Homo sapiens: one gene and its partners. The protein of the gene in region 3 interacts with the protein of the main gene of each other region in a pairwise test. Each region holds a gene or a part of one and is shown on either strand. Other genes may lie near its edges.

The links.
Region 1: the proteins of POGZ (region 3) and POU2F1 interact in binary tests that used the Homo sapiens proteins (3 or more experiments, as listed by UniProt).
Region 2: the proteins of POGZ (region 3) and VEZF1 interact in binary tests that used the Homo sapiens proteins (3 or more experiments, as listed by UniProt).
Region 4: the proteins of POGZ (region 3) and VGLL3 interact in binary tests that used the Homo sapiens proteins (3 or more experiments, as listed by UniProt).
Region 5: the proteins of POGZ (region 3) and SPRYD7 interact in binary tests that used the Homo sapiens proteins (3 or more experiments, as listed by UniProt).
Region 6: the proteins of POGZ (region 3) and ZNF76 interact in binary tests that used the Homo sapiens proteins (3 or more experiments, as listed by UniProt).
Region 7: the proteins of POGZ (region 3) and CBX5 interact in binary tests that used the Homo sapiens proteins (3 or more experiments, as listed by UniProt).

What each region holds. Positions count from the first base shown.
Region 1 is NC_000001.11:167,373,641-167,378,129, forward strand, and holds part of POU2F1 (POU domain, class 2, transcription factor 1), read left to right. Parts: intron 1-467; coding exon 468-656; intron 657-2,388; coding exon 2,389-2,515; intron 2,516-4,489. UniProt on the Homo sapiens protein: Transcription factor that binds to the octamer motif (5'-ATTTGCAT-3') and activates the promoters of the genes for some small nuclear RNAs (snRNA) and of genes such as those for histone H2B and immunoglobulins.
Region 2 is NC_000017.11:57,977,772-57,982,260, reverse strand, and holds part of VEZF1 (vascular endothelial zinc finger 1), read left to right. Parts: intron 1-324; coding exon 325-388; intron 389-1,456; coding exon of another isoform or gene 1,457-1,474; coding exon 1,475-1,658; intron 1,659-2,947; coding exon 2,948-3,109; intron 3,110-4,489. UniProt on the Homo sapiens protein: Possible transcription factor. Specifically binds to the CT/GC-rich region of the interleukin-3 promoter and mediates tax transactivation of IL-3.
Region 3 is NC_000001.11:151,420,853-151,425,341, reverse strand, and holds part of POGZ (pogo transposable element with ZNF domain), read left to right. Parts: intron 1-280; coding exon 281-387; intron 388-1,055; coding exon 1,056-1,393; intron 1,394-1,790; coding exon 1,791-1,945; intron 1,946-4,489. UniProt on the Homo sapiens protein: Plays a role in mitotic cell cycle progression and is involved in kinetochore assembly and mitotic sister chromatid cohesion.
Region 4 is NC_000003.12:86,970,069-86,974,557, reverse strand, and holds part of VGLL3 (transcription cofactor vestigial-like protein 3), read left to right. Parts: intron 1-4,489. UniProt on the Homo sapiens protein: May act as a specific coactivator for the mammalian TEFs.
Region 5 is NC_000013.11:49,926,093-49,930,581, reverse strand, and holds part of SPRYD7 (SPRY domain-containing protein 7), read left to right. Parts: intron 1-2,496; coding exon 2,497-2,663; intron 2,664-4,489.
Region 6 is NC_000006.12:35,287,235-35,291,723, forward strand, and holds part of ZNF76 (zinc finger protein 76), read left to right. Parts: intron 1-388; coding exon of another isoform or gene 389-411; coding exon 412-611; intron 612-3,018; coding exon of another isoform or gene 3,019-3,031; coding exon 3,032-3,148; intron 3,149-3,406; coding exon 3,407-3,482; intron 3,483-4,043; coding exon 4,044-4,169; intron 4,170-4,323; coding exon 4,324-4,489. UniProt on the Homo sapiens protein: May be involved in transcriptional regulation.
Region 7 is NC_000012.12:54,232,073-54,235,401, reverse strand, and holds part of CBX5 (chromobox protein homolog 5), read left to right. Parts: 3' UTR 1-3,329. UniProt on the Homo sapiens protein: Component of heterochromatin that recognizes and binds histone H3 tails methylated at 'Lys-9' (H3K9me), leading to epigenetic repression. In contrast, it is excluded from chromatin when 'Tyr-41' of histone H3 is phosphorylated (H3Y41ph).

The DNA of each region.
Region 1 (4,489 bases), about 16 Mb from region 3:
ATATCTTTGGACTTAATGGAAATGATGGAATATGGCAGGGATTCATGCTAATGGGAAGCAGCTGGGCCTTATCAGTTCTTTCCTTGGTTATATCCAGCATCCTTGTTCCTCATTCATCTGACTAATCACTTGCTGTTTGGTTGTGTGTAAATGTATTTTCATATCTTGTCAGTGGTGATTCTTTTTTTTTTTTCTTGCTTACTAGTTAATTACTTTTTTGCCCAAACCCTAGGGCCCTGGACAAGCTTGAATGATTAAGTCCATAGTGGGGACCACCATTTTAATTTAAATGTTCTGCTAGTAATGGTAGTTTGATCACTGATGAACATTTTAGCTGTCTGCTAAGCAAGTGAAGTTGGGTAGCTGGGGACTGATATCATTTGAGTTACCTATTTTAAAGCAGTTGGCTTGCATTAGGAGACTTTCTCCTTCAACACTTTCCCATAATGTGTTCTGGTTTTGTTTAGCTTACTTTGACGCCTGCCCAGCAACAGTTACTACTCCAGCAGGCACAGGCACAGGCACAGCTGCTGGCTGCTGCAGTGCAGCAGCACTCCGCCAGCCAGCAGCACAGTGCTGCTGGAGCCACCATCTCCGCCTCTGCTGCCACGCCCATGACGCAGATCCCCCTGTCTCAGCCCATACAGATCGCACAGGTGAGTGAGGAACTCCAATAGCTGGGGCAGCAAGTGAGGAATAAAGTGGCAGGTTTTATTTAATGTTAGATTAACTTTTTGATTGTTAGTGTGGGGCCTTAACTGCCTGAGGAGCTCTAGATCAGTGAGGTAAGCGGTACCCTTCCTTACCACTGAATTAGAAATAATGTTTGTTTGCTTATTGTAGTTGATATTGTAAACATATAGCTGATTATTTGAATAACTGACTTTATATTAAGTGACAATTCTTGAATAATTAGCTGGCATATTTTTGAAGCAGGGGATTACTGTATTTATTTTAATTAGCTAATTACAGCAGACATGGATTTTTTTTCATGTGCTCTGCGGTGAATGTTGCCACCCATGTGTGAGACAGTGAGTCATCTCTGCTATGGAGTGATTAACATTATTGCATTAGAATGTTGTTTGGTTTCAATTTTCACATTTTAGGGCAAAGTATCTAGAGATAATAAAAATTTATTTAAGAAGCGCCAGGCGCGGTGGCTCACGCCTGTAATCCCAGCACTTTGGGAGGCCGAGGCGGGCGGATCACTAGGTCAGGAGTTCGAGACCATACTGGCTAACACGGTGAAACCCCATCTCTACTAAAAATACAAAAAATTAGCCAGGTGTGGTGGCAGGTGCCTGTAATCCCAGCTACGCGGGAGGTTGAGGCAGGAGAATAGCGTGAACCCAGGAGGTGGAGCTTGCAGTGAGCCGAGATCGCGCCACTAAAAAAAAAAAAAATTAAGAAGCATACACAATAGTACCAAGGAGGAAAATAAATAAAATCTTTAATCTCAAGAAGAGGAAAAAGGTATAAGTAGATATATCAGTAAAATATATGAAGAGTTATTATGAGTCTAATTGTTAGACAGCTGTCTTTATCCGTCTCAGAAAAGACTCAGAAATGGACTTAACTTGTAGCAAGAGTTTGACTAACCATTTAAAAAGAACTAATTAACTGTAAGAGTAGAGAATAAATATCAGACTAGTCTTTATACAATCTTTATCAAGATAATGTTTTGATTTTGGCCACTTTCTCATCACCAAATAAATGTTTTTAGTGCCTAAGCTGTGAGACCCTATATTAACATTAGTCTAAATAAGATAACGTTCATGAAAACACTTTGAAAATTATAAAACAGTAGGCCAATGTAAGGTGCTATTGTTGTTAGGGATTAAATTTTTATATGGATAGCTATTTTTGGTTTTAAAAAATTGAATACTTTAGAACATGTGGAAAAGGGCAAAAAAATTGAATACTGATTTTTCAGTTGAGTTAGATAAGCTGTTGTCAAATGTCATAAGTCATTATAGGCCCTTTATTGATGGAAATTCAGACATAACACGATCAATTTTTATTTAAGAGAAAGATCAATCAAATATTTAAAAACTGTTTTCTCACTTGATTTTTAAAACCCATATTGGTCTTTACATGATAAAAAACAGAAGTATATTTGTTCTGAGGGAATTTTAAAGAAACATTGAAAATTAGGCTTATCATAACAATATATGTCAGTCCACAAAAATAGTCAGTTGCAGAGGCTCCAGGTTGCTTCACGTGCTTTGTCAAGCACACACAGAGCATACCCTGTTTGGAATATGAAAGCATGCGAAGTATTTACTCTTCTTTATTTGGATGTGACAGAAGTCATCAGCTGGAAGCCTTATAATTAAGCGAACTTTTATTTCAGAATCTCCAATCCATGTTTTAATTCCAATTTTTCAGGATCTTCAACAACTGCAACAGCTTCAACAGCAGAATCTCAACCTGCAACAGTTTGTGTTGGTGCATCCAACCACCAATTTGCAGCCAGCGCAGTTTATCATCTCACAGACGCCCCAGGGCCAGCAGGGTGAGCTCCTCCTTAGAGCTTATTAGTGGTATACCAAGGCTGTTCGCTGAATGTTACACATGCATGAACTACTATCATTTTGGCCCTGAAACTATTAGACCAATGTTTTTATTAAATTTTATTTGATTATAAACTTTCGTTTAAAAAAAGTTTTGTTTTGTTTTTTGTCATAAATACCACATTATTGAAGGTTGCCCTGAACTGCCATTCATCTGCTTAATCACTAAGGAAGAACCAAGAGTTTGGCCAAAAGTCTAAGTGAAATTATTCAACATGCCAAACATAAATTGGATAAGTTGCTGCTAGTGTTTTGATTGTTTTTCATGGAAGTGTATTCAAAGAATATAGACTGAGTGTTGAAAGTATGTGCTTCTAACCATTGTTTTTTTAATTTAAGGAGGGAAGACTGCTATAATAGAAACTACAAATTTCGTGAGTTATAAAAAACATCTTTGAGTCATTTGAGTGGTAAATGTTATATAATTAATATATCAAACAACCACTCGTCTGTAAGGTCAGTTAATGTAATCAGGGTGAAGAATGTCAGAGTATCAAGGCTTCAACCCAAGGAACATTAGTGCATCACTAATGATTCTTTATTATTTCTGAGTGGGTTTTTTTGCCTTTTTTCTTCTTGATCATTCATTCCAAAATCTTTTGTCATGAAATAATTATTCTAGCATATATTCAAGATTCAGAGATAAGTAATTCAGTATTTACTTGCAGAGGGCTCACAATTTAGTGGCAGGGAAACAGACCTAAATTATGTTAGATTTGATATGCACACAATGCTATGGGAACCAAGCAAAGAGACCCCTGTAACTTTGTGCTCAGATAAGTCTTCACAGTGAATTTGGGAAAATACATTCATAGGCTTACAAAAGAGAGAATGTCAGTCTTGGAAAATGAACAGCATTTGCAAACCTTAGAAACATGGAAGAAAAATCAATAAGCTGTGTTTGAGAACTATAAGTAGTGCCTTACAACTGCAGAATAAGTTTGCATATGCAGGTAATAGTGAAATTTGAACCCAGAAAGATTAGCAGAGACCAGATCATTAAAGAACCTTAGATTAAGTTTCCAGGAGTTTGACCTTAAATCCTATAGCTTAGTGCTTCCTAAGATTTGATTTATTTAAGAGTCATTAATGGCCAGGCGTGGTGGCTGACGCCTGTAATCCCAGCACTTTGTGAGGCCGAGGCAGGCAGATCACGAGGTCAGGAGATCGAGACCATCCTAGCTAACACAGTGAAACCCCATCTCTACTAAAAATACAAAAAAAATAGCCAGGCGTGGTGGCAGGCGCCTGTAGTCCCAGCTACTCAGGAGGCTGAGGCAGGAGAATGGTGTGAACTGGGAAGGCAGAGCTTGCAGTGAGCCAAGATTGAACCACTGCACTCCAGCCTGGGTGACAGAGTGAGACTCCGTCTAAAAAATAAAAAAATTAAAAAATCACTTGAGGAATTAGAAAAGTTTCCTGAGCCCTAACCCCAACCTCCCAATTACTTTTTTTCTTATTTTTAAACTATTAGGTTCAGGGTTACACTCAGGTTTGTTATGTAGATAAACTACATGTCATAGGGATTTGATGTACAGATAATTTCATCACCCAGGTAATAGGCATAATACCTGATAGGTAGTTTTTTCGATTCTCATCCTCCTCCCACCCTCTACCCTCAAGTAGGCCCTGGTGGCTGTTGTTCCCTTCTTTGTGTACATATGTACTGAAAGTTTTATGGCTGTATAGTATTCCGTTGTGTATATGCACCACATTTTTTTTAATCCAGTCTAGTGTTGATGGATATTTAGGTTGATTCCATGTCTTTGCTATTGTGAATAGTGCTGCAATTAACATACGCATGGGTATGTGTCTTTATGGCAGAAAAATTTATATTCTTTTGGGTATATACCCAATAATGGGATTGCTGTATCAAATGGCAATTCTAAGTTCTTTGAGAAATCGCCAAACTGCTT
Region 2 (4,489 bases), on a different chromosome or scaffold from region 3:
TTATAAAAGCTTTTAGAGTTAATATAGTGGTAGCTGTTTCTGGCAAGTGTTAAGACTAAAACTTCGGGTATTTTGTAATTGTAAAGAATCAAGACCTAATATGATTTGATGTTGACTAGGAGAGAAAATTAACAGGTAGAGGCCTAAGACTTTGTTCATGGTAAGAGAGGGAAGGAGACTTGCACCGGGGGAGGGAGGTTGGTAATTCTGCTAGCTTTCCCTAAAATGCACCCCTTCCCAATCTGCCAAGCATGTGAGCATCACATAAGTAGCATTTCTCTATGTGTTCGATTATATCTTCTGTTGAAACTCTCTTTTTCACAGGCCTGACCACTTAAGCTGTCATGTAAAACATGTCCATTCAACAGAAAGACCCTTCAAATGCCAAGTAAGAGTTAAAATGACTTATCCTTAGTGTAGCACTTAATGCACATTATCCAGAAGGTCTGAGCCAGTTGAATCTCACCATTCTTGAATAGTCTTAAAATCACTGACCTGAGTAAATGTGGCCCATTTGACTTCTAGTTTTATAAAATATAACTGACAGCTTCTGTTTCTGTAAAGCAAGATCATTTAAAAATTTAAGCGTGTTGTTTTTTTTAAGCTATATTTCCCTTTCTTTGGGCAATAGTATTTTTTGTTAGGAAAAAAAAGTTACAGTCTTGCAAAGGTGGTTGTGTATTTGAAATGAATAAAAGAATAAAGGGCTTTAATTTCTGGGTTGATTATTGAAGTTGTTTTAACTGTAATAGGAGAAAATAATGAATTTTTCTCCCAAATGTTACCACTTACTAGATTTTTGTTTGTTATTACCAAATTGGAACACTTTCTAGTTGTTTAAAAATCTATTCCAGTTAATGATTTTATTTGACATCAATTATAATAACGAAAACATTAAGAATTTTGCTAAATCAAATGACTGTTTTAGGCATTGGTAATTTTAGTTTGTTGCTGGAAGTCTTTTAGTACACCTTTCAGTTAAGTTTGTTAATGACTGATTTTATTAAGTAAATGATTTGAATGCTAAGAAAGATCTAATTGGAGGAAGGAAGCTAGTGTCATTGAGTGAGTGCCTGCTGTGTATACCAGGCTTTTCTTAATCCACCAGTAATTTTGTGAGAGATGTTATCCCCATTTTACAGATGAAGAAGCTTTCAGATAGGTTAACCAACTTGTTCAACATTACACCATTTAGTAAATTGTGGAGCTCAACTTAAACCCAGGTTTAACTTACCCTAAAGCTTACATTTTTTGTGCTACTCTGTGTTGATGTATTTTCTTCCTTCAAAATGGAAGAGTCTAAAATTTATCAAGAGTTTTATTATGATTATGATTCTAGGTAACATATGCAATTAAAATTCAACTAGTTGTCAGCTTGCTGATGTGGATAGGGTAATGCACAGAATATAACGTACTTCAAAATGAGTAGAACAGGATAGTCTATATTTAAAAAAAGTTTTCCTCCCTCATGCAGACGTGCACTGCTGCCTTTGCCACCAAAGACAGACTGCGGACACACATGGTGCGCCATGAAGGCAAGGTATCATGTAACATCTGTGGGAAGCTCCTGAGTGCAGCATACATCACCAGCCACTTAAAGACTCATGGGCAGAGCCAAAGTATCAACTGTAATACATGTAAACAAGGCATCAGTAAAAGTAGGTGGTGCTTCAGATTTTCTTTCTTTTATATTTCAGATGGGTGAAATATGCATGTTTTCATATTGTATCAAAGGTATTAATATTCACCTTACGTGTTTCCTCCTATTGCCAACATGTGCAAACAGGCAACAATGGACAGAGTATATTAATGTCAGAACTATGCTTTACTTTCATGTATGCAAACAGCATTGATAAGCTAATAATAACCTTTAAGGTGAAAGCAGTATTAATAAGCTTGCTTTTCAAACCCAAATCTGTAGAGAAATGAGATATCATATCCACTTGAAGGTTTAAATGCTTTGCTTGCCTTAAATTCAGAGTTGAAGATAGAATACTTGCATTTACCCAGGCTTTTTCTTTTAAGATTGCCCTAACCACTAGAAGAAGGCATTTTCCTAATCCTTTATTCTATTATATATGTACTTTATGCAGTAGAAACATCAAATTCTCAAAAAAATAGGTGGCCACAAGAGAATGGGGAAGAAAGCTTAATGTGTGTTAATCTATCCATTTTTACTTCTTTGTAAGTACACTGGGTTTGTAAGTACACTTCTTTGTAAGTACACTGGTATGTTGTACTTTATAAGCATTCACTTCTGTTTTTTTTGTTTTTTTTTTTTTTTTTTTTTGAGACGGAGTCTTCACACTGTTGCCCAGGCTGAAGTGCAATGGCACGATCTCGGCTCACTGCAACCTCCGCCTCCTGGGTTCAAGCGATTCTCCTGCCTCAGCCTCCCAAGTAACTGGGATTACAGGTGCACACTGCCATGCCCGATTACCTTTGCTACTTTTTTTGTATTTTCATAGAGACGGCGTTTCACCGTGTTGCCCAGGCTGGTCTCGAACTCCTGAGCCCAGACAGTCCACCTGCCTCGGCCTCCCAAAGTGCTAGGATTACAGGCATGAGCCACTGCACCCGGCCTATAAACATTCACTTTTAGTGTACATTATTGTGATCAAATAAAAAATTTTGTTGAATGTTGATTAGTCCTATATTAATAATATCAAACTTCCATTTTTAAAGACACTTGCTTTTTTTTTTTTTGATGGTTTTTTTTTTATAGCAAAGAGTCCTTTTCTCTTTTATATTGATTTTTGCTAGTTCTCTAGACTTTTTAGTGCTTGTTTATTTTGACCAATATAGACACAGCAGCAAAAAAGATGCACTTACTAAGAGCTATCAGGTTAAATGGTTAAGATCACAGAAGCATGAGAAGTCAATTTTGAAAAAAAACGGCAACAGTTTTACAGGTAGATACAGTGTTTTTGGTTTGTCTTTGTAATAGCATGCATGAGTGAAGAGACCAGTAACCAAAAGCAGCAGCAGCAGCAGCAGCAGCAGCAGCAGCAGCAGCAACAACAACAACAACAACATGTGACAAGCTGGCCAGGGAAGCAAGTAGAAACACTGAGACTGTGGGAAGAAGCTGTTAAAGCAAGGAAGAAAGGTAAGGCACAGCTTCCAGTGTTGAAAATATGGCTAGAGAAGTGTTTTCATTTAGTATGCCAAGTGATCAAAGTAGAGAAGCCACAGTTTTAGGAAATCTAGCTTAATGGAAACATGGAAATAGTGCATGCTGGGAAATATCTGGTAAAGTATAGTTATTGGCAATAAAGTGTCCAGATAAGTTATTACTAGGAATTAAAAGTTCTCAGTACTTCCTATCATGTTCTTTCTTTTGATGTACTTTTTGCTACAAACCTGGATCCAAATTTGGTCCTTTGCTATGCTCAGAGTTGCATTTTTATATTCAATTTGATGTCAACCTCCATGCATTATGGGCTTTTTTTTTCCTTTCTAAAATATTCCCACTTTTAGAGGTGGATATCCTTGTGTGTACATAAGTTCATTTTCTTACAACTGTGCTATTTTTGCTCTGTAGTGTTCTTTTTCATTGTATTATTTATTACATGTTTCAGATTCTGTAGTGTTGATGTCTTTTCTCTTGGTCACACCCTTAATCTCCTTCAGTCTATCACTGGCTGGCCTTAACATATCTAGTCTTCTGCTGCTGAGGACTTTACTGTAATTGTTTAAAAAATTTTAAATGGTTTGCTTTTCTCTCGTGTATATTTTCTAACGAATCAGTTGGAGTATCAGTTTTCAACGTACTTTTCAACTTACTAGTACAGCTTTGGCTTCTGGACTATTGTGCAGCCATTTCAAATGAATCATTTTGTCAATGTATCATGAGCCAAAGGACAGATTTGTAAATTCCTTCTTCCTCCTCCACCTCTACAATGTCTTACTATGTTAAATGTTAAGGAATCCTCTATCTGTGGGCTCCTCTGTATGTAATTCCTTTTCTGTGTAGTTTCTTCCATCTTTTGCTTTCATGTAGTGTGGCTCTTCCCTTCCTCAGAGTGATCCCTTCTGTTTTTTTTTTTTCTTTTTTAGACAGAGTCTCTCGCTCTGTTGCTCAGGCTTGAGTGCAGTGGCGTGATCTCGGCTCACTGCAGCCTCCGCCTCCTGGGTTCAAGTGATTCTTGTGCCTCAGCCTCCCGGGTAGCCAGGACGACAGGTGTGTGCCACCACACCCGACTAATTTTTGTATTTTTACTAGAGACAGGGTTTTGCCATGTTGGCCAGGCTAGTCTTGAACTCCTGATCTCAAGTGATCCACCCGCCTCAGACTCCTAAAGTTCTGGGATTACAGGCATGAGTCACCACACCTGGCCAGAGTGATCTCTAAACCTCCTATACTTGGATAAAAATAAAAGGAATAGCATTCTTTTTTTTTTTTTTTCTTTTTTTGAGATGGAGTTTTGCTCTTGTTGCCCAGGCTGGAGTGCAATGGCATGATCTTGTCTCACCACAACCTCCGCCT
Region 3 (4,489 bases):
AGTTAGAACAGTAAAAGGAAGCCTCAAACATAGTGATCTTGAGCCCAGGGAGGTCAAGGCTGCAGTGAGCTGTGGTCGTGCCACTGCACTCCAGCCTGGGCAACAGACTGAGAGACCGTGTCTCAAAAAAAACAAAAACAAACAAAAACCATAGTGATCTCTCATGCTTGCTTACCCTTTTATATACTTCTCAGGGAGTGTTTGACTTTTTCCCAAAAGGTCAGTAATCTTTTTCCAGTGTCATTGTATTAATCTTATCAATTCTTCTCACTTCTTTCAGTGACCTCTTCCATCCCAGTATTTGACCTCCAGGATGGTGGACGGAAAATATGTCCACGATGTAATGCTCAATTTCGTGTTACTGAAGCTTTGAGAGGTCACATGTGTGTAAGTGATATCACCTGTGATCCAGCTTAAGTGGCTTCTGCCATTTACCTTCATTAATATTGGAAGCTTGTAAGCAGGGGCTCTAAAATGACTGAAGCTTTTTAAAGGGTTACTGTTTCTCTTGGTCTGTTTTTAGAAGAGCTGTGTACTTTGGAATGTGATGGGATACATTTAAAGACCCTCAAATAGATCAGAACATATGTGATCTTACTTTCTTAGTGTGGTAGATTTTGAAACCACACAGGAGAACAGGTTTATAGATAATAAGGACTCAAACCATATTGGCCTCAGTTCATTTTTGTTAATTGTGTCATTGGATGAATCGGGAGCTCTTACTTCCATTTTTTAGCTTTTCATTTTTTGGTATTAGTCCAGATAAAAAGGTTGGAACTTCTTCTTTGCCAGGGAGCTCAGAGCCAAGTTATACTAATGATTAAGGGACCTAAGACAGGCAGGAGGGAGAAATACAAAGTATAGCGCTTGGGTGGCATATGTGGATATACTCTAGAAAAGGAGTAAAACTTGGAAACGCTAAAAAAAACTGAAGGGTGAAAGCTGAATGAGAATACCTGAAACCAAACCGTTAACAAGGAATGGTAGTGAAGTTAAGGAGTTAGCACATTCTAGCCCCCAGGATAACCAGAATGATCAGATGTCTTTCTTTATAGTACTGTTGCCCAGAAATGGTTGAATACCAGAAGAAAGGAAAGTCCCTGGATTCAGAACCCAGTGTCCCATCAGCAGCAAAGCCCCCATCCCCTGAGAAAACAGCTCCTGTTGCTTCCACACCCTCTTCTACACCTATTCCTGCTCTGTCACCGCCTACCAAAGTACCAGAACCAAATGAGAACGTGGGCGATGCCGTCCAGACCAAACTCATTATGCTTGTAGATGACTTCTACTATGGACGGGATGGTGGCAAAGTAGCCCAGCTCACAAATTTCCCTAAGGTCGCCACATCTTTCCGATGCCCACATTGTACCAAAAGGCTAAAAAACAATATTCGGTAAGTGTTTAAGAGCCTTGGAAGTTACCTTGAACAAGAGAAGACTTACATTTTCTTATATATTTTAAGTCTTTCTCTTTGGAGAATGGACCTAACTACTATGCAGTCTTGCTGGGGTTATCATTAAATCAATAACTAGGACTATAGAAGGAGATATTGTGGTAATAAACAAAAGGTAACTGGATCGAGTAAGGGAAAGCAGTATGTCTCCTTTCCCAGAACTCTCTTAGTTTCAAGAACTCATTATCTTTCTGGGCTCAGAAAAGGATATCCCAAACAGGAAGTCTGGGGAATGGAGGGGAGCAGATAATGTTTGTTCTGTGATTTTACCATTATATTTCTAAAAGGCTACCAATTTTTTATGTTTTCTGTACTTTCTCTTTGTGCTTTATTACAGATTCATGAACCATATGAAACACCACGTAGAACTCGATCAGCAGAACGGTGAGGTAGATGGTCACACTATCTGCCAGCACTGTTACCGCCAGTTTTCCACTCCCTTCCAGCTTCAGTGCCACTTGGAAAATGTTCATAGTCCCTATGAATCTACTAGTAAGTTTGGAAACTCTTAAACTCAAGGGGAATATACCTTGCTGTTCACTCATTGAATGGCGCTGGGGGGAGCCCATTATATTTATTTACATGTGGGTAACAGTGTAGAGGAAGTACTTTTCATATTTGTAGCCAGTTCTTTACTTCATTCACCTTGTTTTTTTTTACAAGCCTGACTTTTATTTTGTTCAAGCATGGATTGAGTTCAGTGTTAGATCCTGAATTGTTAGGGGCGTTGATTCAGAACCACTGTAGAAAAACAAATGTAATTAATTTATTTCTTAGGTCTCTTTATAGAAGGAACAGTCATCTATTTGCTCTTCCACTTTAGTTAAACCCTGATAGGTTTTATGTAGGCTAAAAGATAATATTGTGAAGTACTTTATCATTAAGACATTGCTTTCAATGAAATATAAGATGAGCTGGAGTGTTTTCTACACTGTATATTTTATACATGTAGGCTGGACATAAGCTCAAAGAAATTAAGTAGGATAAAAGATAATATGGCCGGGCACGGTGGCTCACGCCTGTAATCCCAACACTTTGGGAGGCCGAAGCAGGCAGATCACCTGAAGTCAGGAATTCGAGACCAGCCCGGCCAACATGGCGAAGCCCCATCTCTACTAAAAATGCAAAAATTAGCTGGGTGTGGTGGCGGGCACCTGTAATCCCAGCTACTCGGGAGGCTGAGACAGGAGAATCGCTTGAACCCGGGAGGCGGAGGTTGCAGTGAGCTGAGATCATGCCATTGCACTCCAGTCTGGGCAACAAGAGCAAAACTCCATCTCCAAAAAAAAAAAGATAATATTATGAAGTACTTTATCATTAAGACAGTGCTTTCAGTGAAATATAAGGTAAGCTGGAATGTTTTTCTACACTGTACATTTTATAGATAGATGTAGGCTGAACATAAGCTCAAAGAAATTGAGTCATTTGCTTATGAGCGTACACCTCTAAATACACCTCTACTGGGGATACATAGTGAGGATTTAAGCCCAGTATTGAGAATACTTCTCATGTCCTTTACGGGATTTCCAGTTTTGTTGTAAAGACAAAAATTATGTAAATATAGGAAAATGTGAGAACAAGATAGTATATTATAAACATAGACATTTTAAGATATCATTGATAGGTGAAATACTTCAGAGAAGGGAAAAAATCCTTGTGGCTAGGTTTCCAAGAAAGTCGTGCTTAAATTTAAGAAAGGTTTAGATGGATGGAGAGTAGTAAGAAAAGCTTTTAGGTGATTGAAAACAGCATGATCAAAAGCATAGAAGACATATGCATATTATCTGGATGCATTTGCTACAAGTAAAAATCCTTAACTAAAAATGAATTAAACAATAAGGACTGGGTGTGGTGGCTCACACCTGTAATCCCAGCACTTTGGGAGGCTTAGGTGGGTGGATCAGTTGAGGCCAGGGGAGACCAGTCTGGCCAACATGGCAAAACCACATCTCTACTAAAAATACAAAAATTCGCTGGCTGTGGTGGTGTGCGCAGGTAATCCCAACTACTCAGGAAGCCAAGGCATGAGAATCACTTGATCCCAGGAGGTAGAGGTTGCAGTGAGCTGAGATCGCACCACTGCACTCCAGCCTGGATGACAGAGCGAGTCTCTGTCTCAAAACAAAAGAAAACAATAAGAATATCTGTTATATCATTTAACTGAGAGATACAGAAATGGATGCTTCAGCCTAGAATTTGACTGCCCTGCTGGTTTTCAACAATTCTCTTGTCTCTGGCTCATAGCAGGGTGGCTGTATAAGTGTCAGGCACTATGTCCAGATAAAAAATTGTTAGACAAAGAAGAGATCTTATCTTCCCATCTTTCTTTCTTGAATCTGTTTTCTTATGAGTGAGAATTGCTTTCCTTTTATATCTCTTTGACCATTTATTGGCAAGGGAAGTGGGATTGACATTAATGGCTTACAGTAACACTAGGCAGTAGAAATACGCAAGCTTCATGAGTAATTTTAATTTTTTTCACTTTAAATACAGTAGCGCTCCCTTATCCTCAATTTTTCTTTCTTGAATCTGTTTTCTTATGAGTGAGAATTGCTTTCCTTTTATATCTCTGACCATTTATTGGCAAGGGAAGTGGGATTGACATTAATGGCTTACAGTAACACTAGGCAGTAGAAATATGCAAGCTTCATGAGTAATTTTAATTTTTTTCACTTTAAATACAGTAGCGCTCCCTTATCCTCAATTTTAGTCTCAATCACAGTCCAAAACTAGGTGAGTGCAGTACAATAAGATTATTGAGAGAGACACCACATTCACATAACTTTTATTACAGTATATTGTTATAATTATCCTTTTATATATTATATATTTTTAATTGTTAATCTCTTTGCCTAATTTATAAATTAAACTTTATCATAGGTATATATATATATATATATGAAAAAACACGGTATGTATAGGGTTCAATACTATCTGAGGTTTCATGTATGCACTGGGGGTCTTGGAACGTATATTTCCCATTGGCAAAGGGCGTCTACTGTAAAGTTTAAAAAAACAGGCAAAATTAATTTTAAC
Region 4 (4,489 bases), on a different chromosome or scaffold from region 3:
TTTCAGCTGTAAGGCAAACAATGATAGGAAGTATATGTATTTTACTTGGCACAATGTCTTATCAGTTACCTCTAATCCTGCTATATATTCTAACAGGGTTGAAAGAATTTCATTTCTTTCCATTAAGAAAACCTAACTAGCTGGGCGTGGTGGCTCATGCCTGTAATCTCAGCACTTTGGGAGGCCGCGGCCGGGCAGTTCACCTGAGGTCAGGAGTTCGAGACCAGCCTAGGCAACATTGTGAAACCCCATCTCTACTAAAAACACAAAAAATTAGCCAGGCAAGGTGACAGCCACCTGTAATCTCAGCTACTTAGGAGACTGAGACAGGAGAATCGCTTGAACCCGGGAGGTGGAGGTTGCAGTGAGTCGAGATTATGCCATTGTACTCCAGCCTGTGTGACAGAGTGAGACTCTATCTAAAAAAAAAAAAAAATAACAAACCTAATGAATATGATTGGTCCCTTATCTCCATACAAATATATGTTTCTTGATACCCTTCTCCTAGAGTTATTATAAAGATTTTAAAAATAATCTATATGATTAATTTAGCACAGCGCTAAACATTGGTTTCAAATATGCCTATGCACTGATCTTTACAGAAATGAGTCTGTGTGTATCTGTAGAAAAGGGCAGGAGCTATGTCAAGCCATAGCAGAGTAAATCACTGACTTAAAACCATACAGAATGCTAATCTTACTGATATTGCAGTTGCAAAGAAAATCATCTGTTGGCTCATTGATGTACATAGGGTCTGCTTGGGCAATTCATTCTCATGGGAAAAAGCTCTCAAAATAAATACGAAACCTAAATAGTCAAATGGAGAAAGGAAAAGGAGGGCCTGTCTGATGAGCTGGCTGATACTGGAAATGAACAGAATGTCCATAGGACCAAGACATGGGGAAAAAAGTGAGGCGTGACTAATCTCACCCTGCTGCCTCCAAGGAGTATCGGCCTCTGACATCATCCCTTGAAACTCTCATTGTAGAGTCACAAGGCCCATTTTGAGCAACTCTAGAAGAAAGTAACTAGAAGGCAATCTTTGGACATAATGGTAATGCATAATTACTGAATGACAGAAAACACTGGAACACATGTCATTTCACTTCTGACCCAGCCATTTATTTTTATGGGAAGAACAACAAGAGAATGGCAATGAAATTACAGCAAGAACACTTTAGCTTAAGAATTGAGTAGAATTTTGTTTTTTAACTGATATTAATAAAAAATGTAAAAATGTTACCTTTTAGCATTTAATAATCATATTTTAATCAATATTGATTCTAATGTGTTTTCTGGAAATTTTTAAGATGACTTAGAGTTTCTATAACACTTCATTGTCCCATTTTCCTTTTAATTTAGTTTTTGTTATTTTCAAAATTAATAAGCTGTATCATTCTTTAAATTTTGAATCTTATCTTTCTTAAATTTTTTACTCGGAGATTTTAAAAAATTTTTTTGGAGGTAATGTGTGTGTGTGTGTGTTTTTTTTAAGAGACATTTACAATCAGTGTAAAAAGTATCCCACTATTGTGAAATTGAAAGAAATACCTGGTATACCATGTTGCAGTCTAAATCAGATAGTGAGATTACTGGGTTTGCTTTTAGTGGATTTTATTAGACAATGTATCAATATTATCATTTTCTTTTTTGTCTAGAAATAAACTCGTGTGTATGTATGTGTGAGTAATATTTTTAACCCCAAATGAAAATTGAACCAAAATTACAGTTGGGCATTTTGTATGTGTTAGACTGTCAGTGTCAACATCATCCAAATATTGGTTAACATCACCTGTATACCAGGTAATATTGAATCCAAACTCACCATATAGTGTTAATAGCATAAAGTATTGTATTTTCTTCACTCACCTGAAATGTAATATTGCATAGAAATAGCCCATGCAGTTTTTCATATGTCTTCTTCATCCAACAAATGTGGCTGTGATTAAGTACTCATAAGCAAAGAATCATGTAATGAAAAAAATTTACATACATATGAAATAAGCACACTGGTTCTCAGGCATGAAACAAAGCATATCATCTCTTCCTTTGCATCAAGACTTTTTTTTCTTAAACAAGCAAGACACCGAATAGTGATTTTGAAGTATAAACTTCTTCATAAACATATTTTCAACTCAATATTGTTTCAATTGTAAATGTAACAGGTTTTTTTTAAAGGGCTGCATAGATCTTTGCAAACTTTATATTCATCTCAAGAGACATATTGACTGGGAAAATATTAAGTTCCTTTTAATTTTATTTTTCCCTGGAGCATTTTAAAACTTTGTTCAATCTTTATGGAGTGCATTTTCAAAAATAGATTTCTACTTTCAGTAATAATGTCTTCACTAATCATGGTACAGTACTTCATAAATAGACCAATAATATTTTTGATAAATAATTGATTCATTATTCCCATTTGCGCATGCATATTCAAACTGCATAAGCATCTATAAAATAAGATTGGCTCCATGTACATATAAATGAGACTAAAAGCATACAGAGAAATGGTATATACTCTCCGTACTTTTGACATCTTAATGGTGGATTTTAATAAGGGGAATTCTATATCTCTGGCACGTACTTGTGGTTGGGGCTCAACGGTTTTCATAATAGGATTCTAGCCCCTCGGGAGATGGAAGTTAGGAGCAGAATGAAGGCTTTGGTCCCAAAGATGGGAGTTGTGAGAGCAAAGTGGCAGATGTGTGGTAGCAAGGATGAACTATGTAGAATAAGGAGCCTCTCTAAACTCTCTGTATGGGTTTTAAGCTTTAAACATTGATGGCTTTCATTGTGGGTATGACAGAAATATTTTACAAATGACCATCACCTAAGGCAAATTGAATTTTCTTCTTACAACTTACACGACTTTCCTTCTTGTCATTAATAGTATTTTTCATATGTTGCAAAGAGACGATTGTTAATTCAAGAAAACATAGTTACCTCAATGTCAGTAAGGCTGATTATAGGTGGTATTTTTGGATAGATTGTGATTTTAACAAAGTCATTCAATTAAAAGTTTCCTGAGGTTGTTTGAAGACTTAAAGTGTGCAGTTCCATTCTTTGCCTTTTGAAGAACACCATTTCCTAGATTTCCCCAAGTGTTTTGAGATCGATGGAGATGTTGTGAGAGAGGGAATTGACTGTGAATAGCTGTGTGACCACAGGATGAATGGGATGAATGGTCATGATCATAGCTCTGGTGCCCAGCTGAAGGGGAGAGAATAGAAGAGCTTGCAGTGCTGCTGCCACAGCCTTTAGGGGAGAGGAAATGTTCACACACCACAGTAATGCCGAATTATGTTAACCAAATGATATATGTGGTGGTTGACTGAAGTTTTTTAAGCTTTCCCTGAGGCAAGAAAACTATGGCCTGATATTTATAGAGAGAACATAGATAATGTCAGAGTTTTGAATATTCTTATTTTAAAATACTTCTTAAGATATCCTCCATTCATACCCTTCATTCAATGGAAAGATCTAGCAAGGTTCTTTTATGTGGAACTCAGTATAAAAATACTCTCTTAAACTCACATGACTAACATCTTTAGAAAATGTCTTCTTCTGTAAATAAAAATAATCCATAGGGCACTTCACAGACTGTTAGCAGTATTAAGCCGTAGATAATTTGAATTAATGAGTTCAAATACTTCATTTTCTTAGTGAAAGAAAGTAAACCATGGAAAGATCAATGGGTCCATATTGGGTGATAAAATGAGATAGGGTAAGACCTAGGATCAGAGCTGGGCTCCTTGGTCTCCCAGCCCAGTGCTTGTTTAGTTATACAACACTGTAGGCAACAGGCTACAGGTGGAGGCACTGATCTTTCCACAAACGGATTTGACTGTGTCACTTACTAGATTAAAACCCTTCAAAGCCCATTGAGACCCTGCCACCTCAGAATAGAATTTACATTCAGTACCATGGCCAGCAAGTCTACACCCATCTTGGTCCTCATTTCAATAGTCTCAATTTTTCTGTTGCCACCTTCTGCCTATGGAACTCTTTTTGTCTTTCAAATGCTGCTGCTGTCATATGTGTGTGTGTGTGTGTGTGTGTGTGTGTGTGTGTGTGCGTGTGTGTAATATATGGCCTTTTCTTATGTGCTGATCCATTTGCCTAAAGCTTACTTCCCAGGGCTAGCCCCCACTCAGTCTGTCAGCTTCCACTTATCACTCTCTAAGCTGGGTCGGGGCTCTCTGTGCTTCCTGTTGGGAGAATACCTACCGTGTCACCTTGCACATGTCTGTTTTTACTTATCTATCCTTCTGCAGATTGTGACTAAAAATGATGTCCATTTGGTCATCCCTGACGCCTATGTTTGATACATAGTAGGTCGTGTATAAATGTGTTATTACGATTGAGTAGGAAATTGAACTGATGAAGAGTTAGGGGATCGTTTTCTTTCTTATTCGTCTCTAAGTGCTATTCTTTGATATTTCCCTCTCCCCAAAATACTTCCTCAAACCCATGACTTCTACTTGAATTT
Region 5 (4,489 bases), on a different chromosome or scaffold from region 3:
TGAGATGGAGTCTTGCTCTGTCACCCAGGCTGGAGTGCAGTGGCGCGGTCTTGACTCACGGCAACCTCCGCCTCCCGGGTTCAAGCAATTCTCTTGCCTCAGCCTCTTGAGTAGCTGGGATTACAGGCATGCACCACCATGCCCAGCTAATTTTTATATTTTCAGTAGAGACAGAGGTTTCACCATGTTGGTCAGGCTGATCTCAAACTCCTGATCTTGTGATCTGCCCTCGTCGGCCTCCCAAAGTGTTGGGATTACAGGCATGAGCCAGAGTTTTTCTCTTAACTCAGTTATTAAGATACCCTGATTCAGTGTTTTGAAGCAGTCATCAAATTCAGAATTCAGATAGAAGTCTGCAGTCTATATTTCTCTTTTTAAAATTTATGGAGTTTCTTGAACTGTAAAGCAATTCTATGTGATTATAATAGGTTAGTTAACTGTGCCTGTATTGTATATGGGAAAACTTTTAAAATAAAAGCTTTACTGTAAAGTGATCGGGCATAGTGGCTCACACCTGTAATCCCAACACTTTGGGAGGCCGAGGTGGGCAGATCACCTGAGGTCAGGAGTTCAAGACCAGCCTGGCCAACATGGCGAAACCCCATCTCTACTAAAGATACAAAAATCATCCAGGCATCGTGGTGGGCACCTGTAGTCCCAGTTACTCGGGAGGCTAAGGCAGGAGAATTGCCTGAACCCGGAAGACAGAGGCTGCAGTGAGCTGAGATTATGCCACTGCACTGCAGCCTGGGCAACAGAGTGAGACTCCGTCTCAAAAAAAAAAAAAGTGGCTGGGCGTGGTGGCTCACGCCTGTAACCCAGCACTTTGGGAGGCCGAGGGGGTGGATCACGAGGTCAGGCATTTGAGACCAGCCTGGTCAACATAGTGAAACCCCGTTTCTACTAAAAGTACAAAAAATTAGTCAGGCGTGGTGGTGGGCGCCTGTAATCCCAGCTACTCGGGAGGCTGAGGCAGGAGAATCGCTTGAACCCAGGAAGAAGAGGTTACAGTGAGCCGAGATCGTGCCACTGCGCTCCAGCCTGGGCAACAGTACAAGACTCTGTCTCAAAAAAACAAATACAAAAACAAAAACAAAACAAGCTTTATTGTAAATAAACTTCTAGTGAAATACTGCATCAGTAATGTGGGTAGAGAATAGGAAAATGAGAGTGGAGTAAATGAATCTTACTATTACTTGGCCAGCCTTGAATGATATAAAATTTCCCCCTAGGGCTTATTTTCTAAATTATTTTTACTTATTTATTTATTTATAGATGGGGTCTTGCTCTGTCACCCAGGCTGGAGTGCAGTGGCATGATTATAGCTCAGTGCAGCCTTGAGCTTCTAGGCTGAAGCAGTACTCCTGCCGCAGCCTTCCCAGTAGCTGAAACTACAGGCTCAAGCCACCGTGCCTAGCTCTAAATTAGTTTTAAATAATGATTTTCAATGGGGCATGGTGGCTTACACCTGTAATTCCAGCGCTTTGGGAGACTGAGGCAGGAGGGTTGCTCAAGGCCAGGAGTTTGAGACCAGCCTGGGCAAACATAGCACAACCCCATCTCTACAAAGAAAAGAAAAATTAGCTGGGTGTGGTGGCTTAAAATACTGGGTAAGAAAATGATTTTACACCTTATTGTTAATTTCTCCTCTCCATGATATTGCTTATGGTATATATTGTTTGTCACTCATTGTAGATGTAAAAACTGAAGACAGTACATTCCCACTTTTCAAAGGGAGAGCTTGAAATTGAACTCCAGGCCATTTAAATTCAATGTGTAGCTTTTAAAAAATCTTTTTGAGATAATAATAATGATGATGATGACAGCTAGCATTTTCTGAATACTTACTGTGTGCTTTACTTTCTCATGCTGTGGAGTACTTACACTGTTCAAGTGCTTTACTTGGATTATCTTGTTGTATCTTTTCATTACCTTGCAAGGTGAGTACTGTTAGAATCCTCAGTTCACAGATAAGGGAACAAAGAGAGGTTAGGTAATTTGCGCAAGATGATGTAGCAGAGTCAAGATTTAATCCTCATTTGCACTGTTCCAGGGCCCACTCTCTTATCTCCTAGGCTGTACTACATCTGTGGAGAACATAGTATAGTTTGCAAACTACTTTTATTTTATTTTATTTATTGAGACAGGGTCTGGCTTTGTCGCTCAGGCTGGAGTGCAGTGGAATGATCATGGATCACTGCAACCTCAACTTCCCTGGCTCCAACAATCCTCCCACCTCAGCCTCCTGAGTAGCTGGGGTTACAGGCACATGCTCCCATGCCCAACTAATTTTTGTATTTTTTGTAGAGACGGGGTTTGGGCATGTTGCCCAGGCTGGTGCAAACTACTTCTAAAAGAAGATTTTTTAAAAAGAGTAATAGAAAACAATTTAGTGTTAATACAGCACTTCCTTTAAAAAGTTTATACTCCCTTTTAAAATAACTCGATGGTTGTAGTCTTCAGATTTTGAGGGCATTTAAACTGTTATATTTTTAGGAATCTGGGGTATTGGTGTTGCAACTCAGAAGGTTAACTTGAATCAGATTCCTCTTGGCCGAGATATGCACAGTCTGGTGATGAGAAATGATGGAGCCCTTTACCACAACAATGAAGAGAAAAATAGGCTGCCAGCAAACAGTCTTCCGCAGGAAGGAGATGTGGTGGTGAGTTCCCTCATGGAGTTGCTTTCCACTGTAAATGACTAAATTTGAACTGCTTTTAGTATCTACAGCTTTGTCTGGGAGTTTGTGGTTTGAATTCCAAAGCAGTGGGATTGGATCTAATGAGATGGTGCATTTTCCAGGAGAGCACTTGGTGTAGATGTTGCACCCTACTCAACTGCCCCCTCCTTTTTAGAGCTGCCACTGGCTGGGAAAATCAGTGTGAACCCTTATTTCTACTCTGGAGAATTAATGACAGGCTGTCTGCTGATCACACATTCCTGTTTCTCTCACATTAGAGAAAACTTGGCCCACAATTCTAAAAGTTTGCTGAAGCTTATATTAGAAAATACTAGTTATTTTTAAGGCTGGATATCTCTTAGGGAAAATGTTCACATTTATTTCTTCTTCTTGTTTTTTTTTTTTTTCTTAGAGTCTCGCTCTGTCACCTAGGCTGTAGTGCAGTGGCATGATCTTGGCTCACTGCAACCTCTGCCTCCCAGGTTCAAGCTATTCTCCGGCCTCAGCCTCCCGAGTAGCTAGGATTACAGGCGCACACCACCAGGCCTGGCTGATTTTTTTTATTTTTAGTAGAGACGGGGTTTCGCCATGTTGGCCAGGCTGATCTCGAACTCCTGACCTCAAGTGATCCACCTGCCTCGGCCTCCCAAAGTGCTGGGATTACAGGCATGAGCCACCGCGCCTAGCCACACATGTATTTCTTAATTTGTTATGAAATTCTATTAAGAGAATTACAGCATTTTATCAGAAATGTTCATCTTCATTAAACTTAACCTAATTAAACTCTTCAGAGAACGGAACTCAAAATCCTAAAGCTTGATCGTAGAAAAGTTTTTTTTTTAGAAAGCAGAGGATAGTAAAAGTTACACGTTATTAAGACTTTTCTGTTTTTACTCCTAACTGGCTATATTTAACTCTTTACAAAGCTAGCACATTGAAAATGTAATCCAAAGATTTCTTTCTGTCTTTTCCAGATACTTCCTTCCACACTGCATTATCCAAAACCCCTCCCTATCCAGAGGTCAGGCCATTGATTTAGAACAGAGTCCTAGAGTCTCCTTCAGCCGAGGTGCCCTTGTACACTGAACCTTGGGTTCTCAATTCTGATATCAAGTTGAAAGGAATCTATGAATAATGAGAGAAGGATTCTAATAAGATGAAAAGATAAGAGAAATCCAGGTTAATTAATTATGAAAAGGTACAGTATTTTAGAAAGAATGAAGAAAGGTGTGGAAATTAAGATTTTTAATTACGGCCTGATCTTTCTTCTCTTTTTTGCAATTTAAAAAATATGAACAACTGTAAGTTTTTAATTGTTGGAAGTTTTTTTTCCAGAATTGACTAAAGAAAAAAAGGAGATGAAAGGCATAAGCCATTAAAAAAATCTGCTTTTTCCCATGCTTTTTGAATAGTTGGTTCTGTATTTGTAGATCATTGCCAGATGCCCATAATATGGAACATCCTTATTCAAATGGTAATTTCTTGAAAGAGAATCTTGAAGTCAAGTTGATGCTGTCAACCTGTTTACCCTAAAAGATGAAATTCAAACATAAGAAAGGATAATCAGTAACAAATGTTTTTCTTTGTTGATGAACTGAAACTTCTACCTGCCTTCCTATCTCATTTCATTCATTGTAATGTCTGATAGCACAGTGTGACAGACTGAAGAATGCCACTTTTAGTCTGTCAGTGTTGTTAAATTAGACTTCGAGTTTTCATATGAGCTCATTCTCATAAAAGGAGAACTAAAACTATGAAATACATGCAGAGCCAAGAAAAGAAAAACATTACCCTGCTATTTTAACTAG
Region 6 (4,489 bases), on a different chromosome or scaffold from region 3:
CTGAGACCAGTGGGAAGCATTTAAACTGTTGAGGCAGTTAAGTGACATGGTCACATTTGTGTCCCGCAAAGATCCCTCTGGATGTTGTGCTGCCTGGAGGGAACTAGAGGGGGTGAGGAGCGACTGGTCAGGAGGCTATTGTGGTCATCTAAGCCAAAATGATGATGGGCCCCTGTCAGGTCCTCAAGGAGCTTGTGAGTTCCCATTTAGTGTACCATAGGAGACCTCATCCTTAGGTGAGACAGCTGCAGAAGGAGGGCCAGCAAGAGTGAATCACAAAGTGAAGGGCCATGAGAAATTGGATGTTGAAACCCTCCTTGGTATATGTATCTCTCATTAACTTAAAGCTAGGGTCCCAGCTGTATCTCTTCCCCTTGTGTGGCATCAGGGCTAACCGCGTGTTCCCTGCAGAAGGCTATGACCCCAGCACCCTGGAAGCCGTCCAACTGGAAGATGGCTCCACTGCCTACATTCACCACCCTGTGGCTGTGCCATCGGAGAGCACCATCCTGGCCGTACAGACAGAGGTGGGCTTGGAGGACCTGGCAGCAGAGGATGATGAGGGCTTCAGTGCAGACGCAGTGGTGGCCCTGGAGCAGTATGCCAGCAAGGTGAGCACGCACAGCGTGACACGGTCTGTCACTCTAGACAACCGGGCCTGGCCTGCGCACTGCCTCTTGGCCCTGCCAGAACTTCACCTCTCAAGAGGACAAGGGCAGCCCTGTGCTTGGGCACCATGTGGGATATTCCCTTTGCCCCTCCACCCCAGCTCCCCCAACTCACCTGTCACACATCATTGTCTAGGGCATGCAACACAGCCTGGCCTGGCCGCTGACAGCTGTTTACGCTCACTTTTGTTTACGCTGTCTTTGCAGAGGGAAAGCTGCCATAAGAAACAGTGGCATCCTTATGCTGAGGAGTTAGGCCCAGCTTCACTTTGGCTGCTGTAGTAATCCTCTGCACTAGCTGGGAAAGCCCTGCCAGTGACTTGTATTAGCTTTCTAGTCCACTGAGGTAATTGTATTTATTTCTTCTCTGTGACTCAGTCATTTGGAAAATTAACCTCAGTGGGCTATGACAAGGGCATGTGCAACAGAACAGCTGGGATTCCTGGATTATGAGGCCCACACAGTAGCTCAGCTGGAAAGGAAAAGGGTCCTGGCTCTGCAAATACCAGTCAGTCCAAGTTCTTTCTGCCGAAACCATGGTCCTGCATGTGGGGAAAAGGGTACAGACATCTCTGAGCTTTCCAAACCAGGGTGTTCCCTTCCTGGAATGACTACAGAGCCTCAGGCTGGATGTGCCAGGGCTTCCTGCACGTTCCTTCCTTCCAGCAGTTTTACCCGAAGATGGGGGAGGTTTTTTATTTATAATGAAACCAGTGTGACTGAATGATGGAGGAAAAAAGGAAGTCCTCATGTCTTTTCAAAATGAAGCACAGGCCGGGAGCAGAGGCTCACGCCTGTAATCCCAGCACTTTGGGAGGCTGAGGCAGGTGGATCGCTTGAGTCCAGGAGTTTGAGACCAGTCTGGGCAACATGGCGAAACCTCATCTCTACACAAAAATACAAAAACAAATTAGCTGGGCATGGTGGTGCGCACCTGTGGTCCCAGCTACTGGGAAGCGGAGGTGGGAGGATCAGGAGGCGGTGACTGCAATGAGCTGAGATTGTCCCACTGCACTCCAGCCTGGGCAACAGAGGGAGATCCTATCTAAAAAAAAAAAAAAAAAAAAAAGTCACAAAACTTTACAGTAGGCTACATTCACTCCCACCCAGGTTCCCTGAGGTATATCTTAGAGACCAAATTTGAGACTCGATGTTGATGTAAAGAGAAGTGGGTTTTATTTAAATCATGAGCCCTGAGATCTATGCTTGCTCTACCTCTACCTAGTCCAAACTTGGGTGAGTCCCTCCTCTCCTCGACCTCAGCTTATTCCTAATATGATGAGATGGGACCAGATGATCTCAGAGGTCACTTCCATCCCTGATGTCCCTTGATTCCCGTGATTACCCCAGGAGCTAGTGAGACATGGAATGAAATCCAAGTGCCTGTGTGGGTTAGCCCGCCAAGCAGGTCAGGCCACCTCTGACCCTACCCTCTACCCAGAAGCTGTTTAAGTGTCCGTGAAGCTCTCAGCTGCTTGAGCCTCTGAGCTGGAGCCTAACTAGACAGACCTTGCCATGAATTTGGCCTCACCCCTCTGTCCCCTGCTCACTGTAACTTGTAGAGTTCAGTTTCAGGAGCTCCTGGAAAGACCAGAGTGTGATTCTGAAGCATTCTAGAAAGAAAGACTAAGGGATAGTCCCACCAGGACCCTGCCCAGGAAAGCAGAAGAGCAATAAGGGCTCCCTGCATCCAGAGGCTGGTGTGAGATGGGTGGCTTTAGCAATATCCCAGAAGAGGAGACAAAAGGGGAGGACTTGTCAGCTGGGTGCTGTCATTAGAGCTGACATTTCTGGTGGAAACTGCAGCACTCCCCTGGGTGCTTCTGGTCGTGGCCACCTCACTCTGGGCCCCAAGTCCTATCAGATGAACCTAGGTGAGCTCATCTCCACAGCAAGCCCCCTTGTTTATGTACTTTTAAGCACTAGTTTCGTGCCAGGAGGAAGGGGACCCCTCCCATCAGAAGATGGAGGTCTTGAGAGTTGCAGGCTCCTAGGTGTGTGTGCTTAGAAGGAGGGTTTCTGGCACTTGGTCCAGTTCAAGCATGGCCATTCAGACAACCTCCCTTTTCACCTTACCTAGCTGTCTATGTGATAGCCTTTCTTCAATAGCCGTCACAGCCACTATGACCTGTAGGTCTCCCTTTATCCCATCAGAGATGGGTGGTGACTCCCCATGCCCACCCTGTTTCTTCTGTAGCATGCCCCAGCATCTGTTCCTTGTCCGTCTAGTTATGTTCTTCTGCCCCAGAGGCCCCTGACAGGTTTAACCCTGCCTGTTGGGTCTTAAGCTGCCAGCAGGGCCCTGTGTCCCACCTTCTTCACTGGGGAGAATACATATAGGGATCTCAAGACTTTTCCCCCAGGTTCTTCATGACAGCCAGATTCCCCGTAATGGAAAAGGGCAGCAAGTTGGAGACAGAGCATTCCGCTGTGGCTACAAGGGCTGTGGGCGTCTCTACACCACCGCTCATCACTTAAAGGTAAGGTTGCTGGCAGACAGCCGTCAGCTCTGCAGTCTTCCCTCCCAGGCTGTAATTCTACCTTTCTGCTTTGATTGGAATTGGTCCCTGCCCTCACGTTGCTGGAGGGAAGAAATGAGGGTACACAGGAATGCCAGCACAGAGCGCTTGACACACATGAATGGTACAGGAGGGAAGAGAATCAGGGTCCTAAAGAAAACCAAAGAGCCCTGGTCATACCCTTGCTCCTCTGAATTATGTGATTGCTTGTCCTCACAGGTGCATGAACGAGCTCATACAGGTGACCGTCCATACAGATGTGACTTCCCCAGCTGTGGAAAGGCCTTTGCCACAGGTAACCTGCCTGGTGGGCTGCTTCCAGTTGAGGGTGGAGGGTTCTCGTTCTGTTTGGGACCTCTCTGAAGGGAACCCAACACCAGGCTGCTTTCCTGGAGAAACTACCGTCAGAGTACTCTGACTTGCAGGGTGCTCTCTCTGGAGGAAACCTTGTTACGGGAGTGCAAGGCAGCATGGTTCAGGCCAGCAGAAGGAGCCTGGAGGGTTGGTGGAGAGACCCAGCCTCTTGTGTCAGCTCTGATGCCAACCAGCTGTGGATTATTGGGTGGGCCATTGCATCTCTCTGGGCTTATTTTCCCCTCTGTGAAACTAGTACCTTTAGCCATGAGTTCTCTAAGTTTCTTTTCATGCTCATGTTCTGGTATGGCTCCAACTGCTCCTGGAGAGGGAAGCAGGGCAGAGTGGGCTTTTCCAGCCCCTGCCCAGGGCAGGGGTGGGATAGAGGCAGACATGGGCTTCTTGAGCCAAAGGAGGTGGAGAGCCTGTGCATGAGGTGGACGGTGGAGGATGAGACCCCACTGGGTGCTCATCTCACCCCCTGCCTGCCACATATGGACAGGCTATGGACTGAAGAGCCACGTTCGTACCCACACTGGTGAGAAACCATACAAGTGCCCAGAGGAGCTGTGCAGCAAGGCCTTCAAGACCTCAGGAGACCTGCAGAAGCATGTCCGTACCCACACTGGTATGCTGGGCCCTGCCCACTCCAACCCCATTCCCTGGGCAAAAGGAATTCAGCTTGCCTTTCAGACTTAGACCTGGAGCCCAGTGCCATCCCCAGCTTGCTCCAGCATGGCCCTCTTTCCCACACCCCTCCTCACATCCCACCATTTGCATAGGTGAACGCCCGTTCCAGTGCCCTTTTGAGGGCTGTGGCCGCTCCTTCACCACATCTAACATCCGCAAGGTACATGTGCGCACCCACACAGGCGAGAGGCCCTACACCTGCCCGGAGCCCCACTGTGGCCGCGGCTTCACCAGCGCCACCAACTATAAGAATCACGT
Region 7 (3,329 bases), on a different chromosome or scaffold from region 3:
ACCTCATGATCCACCCACCTCGGCCTCCCAGAGTGCTGGGATTACAGGCGTGAGCCACCGCCGGGCCGAGAGGGTGATTTCTAAGCAGAGAATTGTATCAGTTATGTGGAAACCTTTGCCAGAAATACATATACCTTGTATATTAAATCTGAGTCTCAGATTTAATCATCGAAGCGTAGCTGGGTTAAGAAACAGTCTGATCGTAAGGATGTTGTCGATTCTGACCCATGGATGACCACAAGAAAAAGATATTTATTTCTGCCTGGATAATTGAGAGTTGACTAACTTTGGAAGTCAGAATTCCCAGGAATTAGAGTAACTGCTCTGGAAAGTTAAAGTGTGAAGTTTTTTAGATAGTTTCATAAAAACAATTCTGGTTTCTTTTTGCTTGTGCTGACTTTCTTGGATTTTAATCTACCTCATCTTGTCTTTTTAGAGTTACTTCAACTTGTCACTTTAACATTGTGCTTGACTTTGGTTGTTTTCTAAGATGGAATTTTTCCTGTTCATTGACAGCTTGTTCTCTTGCCTTTTCATTCTGATCCTCATTTCATCTAACATCATCTCATATTGCTCCTCTGTCAAGAGAAATGTTTTAAAATAGTTTAAAGTCTTGTTTTATGGGAAGAAAGTGATCCTCCAATGCTATTTGTTTCTGAGGTCAGTAAGAGAAGGAGTTAAAACAAGGCAGTGGGGAAGGGAATGAATCCTGCACTGGAGGCAAAAGCTGACAAGGAAAGAGCCATTAATTAAGACAATTTCAAAGTCAACTGATTGTGATCATTAATGTCACAATAGATCAAAACCTAATTATCACAGCCTAGGTAAGAGCCATCAGTATTAATCGGAAAATCTAATAGGAAACTATTATCAAGAAATTAGGCCAAATTGAATGCAGTGAACTTTTTATCTTGGCATTCTCTATTTTTTTGTGATGTCCCCTGGCATTGGCAGGTGTGACCCTAACAGTCGATTCAAGGCCAAGTGGTCAGTTTGTCAGCCTTTTTTAAGGGATTTCTTTTTATTTTTAGGAATTCCAAACAGAGTTAACCTAAACTGTCATTGCCAAAAGATCAGTCTTAAACTTTCTTAGCACCTGTACCTGTTTAATGTGATCAGCTATCAGTGAGGAAAAAAAAAAAAATCTATTTAGGTCTTGGAATGGTTCCTGTACCTAGAGTATCCATATTGAACCTTTTTTTTTTTTTTTTTTTTTTTTTTTTGAGATGGAAACTTGCTCTTTTGCCCAGGCTGGAGTGCAGTGGCGTGATCTTGGCTCACTGCAACCTCCGCCTCCCGGGTTCAAGCAGTTCTCTGCCTCAGCCTCCTGAGCAGCTGGGATTATAGGCGCCTGCCACCATGCCCGGCTAATTTTTGTATTTTTAGTAGAGACAGGGTTCACCATCTTGGCCGTGCTGGTCTTGAACTCCTGACCTTGTGATCCGCCTGCCTCGGCCACTCAAAGTGCTGGGATTGCAGGCGTGAGCCAGCACCCGGCCACAGTATCTTTATTACAGCTCACTGCAGCCTCAATCTCCTGGGCTCAAATGATCCTCCTGCCTCAGCCTCCCAAGCAGCTGGGACTACAGGCGCACACCACGGTGTCTGGCTAATTTTATTATTTAAAAAATGTTTTGTAGAGACAGTCTCCCTGTGTTGCCCAGGCTGGTCTCCAACTCGTGAGCTCAAGTGATCCACGTGCCTCAGCCTCCCAAAGTGCTGGGATTACAAGCATAAGCCACCGCACCCGGCCCCTAGTGAACATTTTACTGTATGTGTTGATAAATCATCTTTTGAGTTTCTGTTGTATGTGGGGACTTCCTACACTGGCTGCTGTGAAGAGGTATGGAAGAAAGGAGAGGCTTTCTGCCTAGAAATTCTTTGAGAACACCTGAAAAGACAGTTTAATCATGTCACAACACTCTTAAGGCTCAAGTCAGTGTTCTGGTTTCCGGTAGCTTTAGGATTGGATTCTAAACGAGGGCTGGTGGTGAGTTTGGTGTTTGTCTCGTGTCACCCTCACCCCTCACCTCCTCAGTTTAGGATAAGAGACATAATGATTTCTACCAGAATCCAAAGTAAATCCAAAGGGGGAGAAAAGACATAACTGTTTTTTCTTCTACCTTTTTTTTGTTAAAGAGTTACATCTCTCACAGGAGGAAAGAATTCAAGAGTCTATATGATTAGTTACAGAGAATATTTTCATCCCCTCTCCCTGAATAGAAAAGCAGGGGTCACCATTTGTATCCTTACCCTTGAGGTGTTTTTGAAGATGCTGTAACTCTTGAAGTTGAGCTGAGGCAGAAAGGTTGGAAAAATGCAGCCCTCTGGGTATTGTGGGGAGGGATGTGATGTAGTAAGAGGGTGTTTTGTGGTGCTAGGATTCCCACGCCACCAACTTGCAGCTTTATAAGAGCGCTACCAAGAACCACCACTGGGGAAAAGGTTCTTATTCATTGTTTCTGTTGGAATGTGATCTTGCTTTCTGGATTTTAGGAATTCAGGTTACTCAGTATAAAACTCTGAGAAATCAGTGTGACTTAGTCCTTCACCTCCTAAGATAAAGTGAATATTTCTTTACAAAATAATTCATGTCCTTAATGTTAAAGATGTAATTTTATTTTCAAAACATCTATAACATGACTTTCAGAAGCAGTTCATTTTTCCAAGATTCCTCACATTATACTAGATAAATAATAGGCCCTCAGTTAATACCCTTCAGTTATTGAATTAATCTAGTTTGTGGAATGAGGTGTATCCTGCCAACTTCCCTCTGCTCCCAAGTACACTCTGAGAGGTAAAATGCTCTGGGAAATGGAACAAGAATCGAGTGGATGCTGACTCTGTGTGCCCACCTCCTCAACTGATTGATAATGGTTGACCTTGGGCAAGTCACTTCTTTCAATGCCTCAGTTCCCCATCTGTCAAATGGGGTTAATAATACTGACCTACCTCACAGGGGTGTTGTTGTGAGGCATTGTAAATCAAAGTTAATAGAATACTTCAGGGTCCTCTGTGGAGGATGTCTTGAGCCAGAGTTTAAGCCTGACACACAGGCTTTGGTCCTCACTGAGCTGTCTCCAAGACTGGAACTACTTAGTGACTCGGCAAATTTTCTGCCCCCCACCCCTCATCAAAGCTGCTAGTTCAGATGTTGACAGTGTTTTCATGAATGTTGGAATCTTACTAGTCCAGACTTACTTAGGATGTTGTTGGGGAAGGCACTTGGGATTTTCTGTGTCTTGCATTCACAGAGGGAGGCCATTTCAGATTCAAGAGCATTGGATTAGGGAATCGTGAGGCAGGGATGCTACTGCGTATTTCTCTCT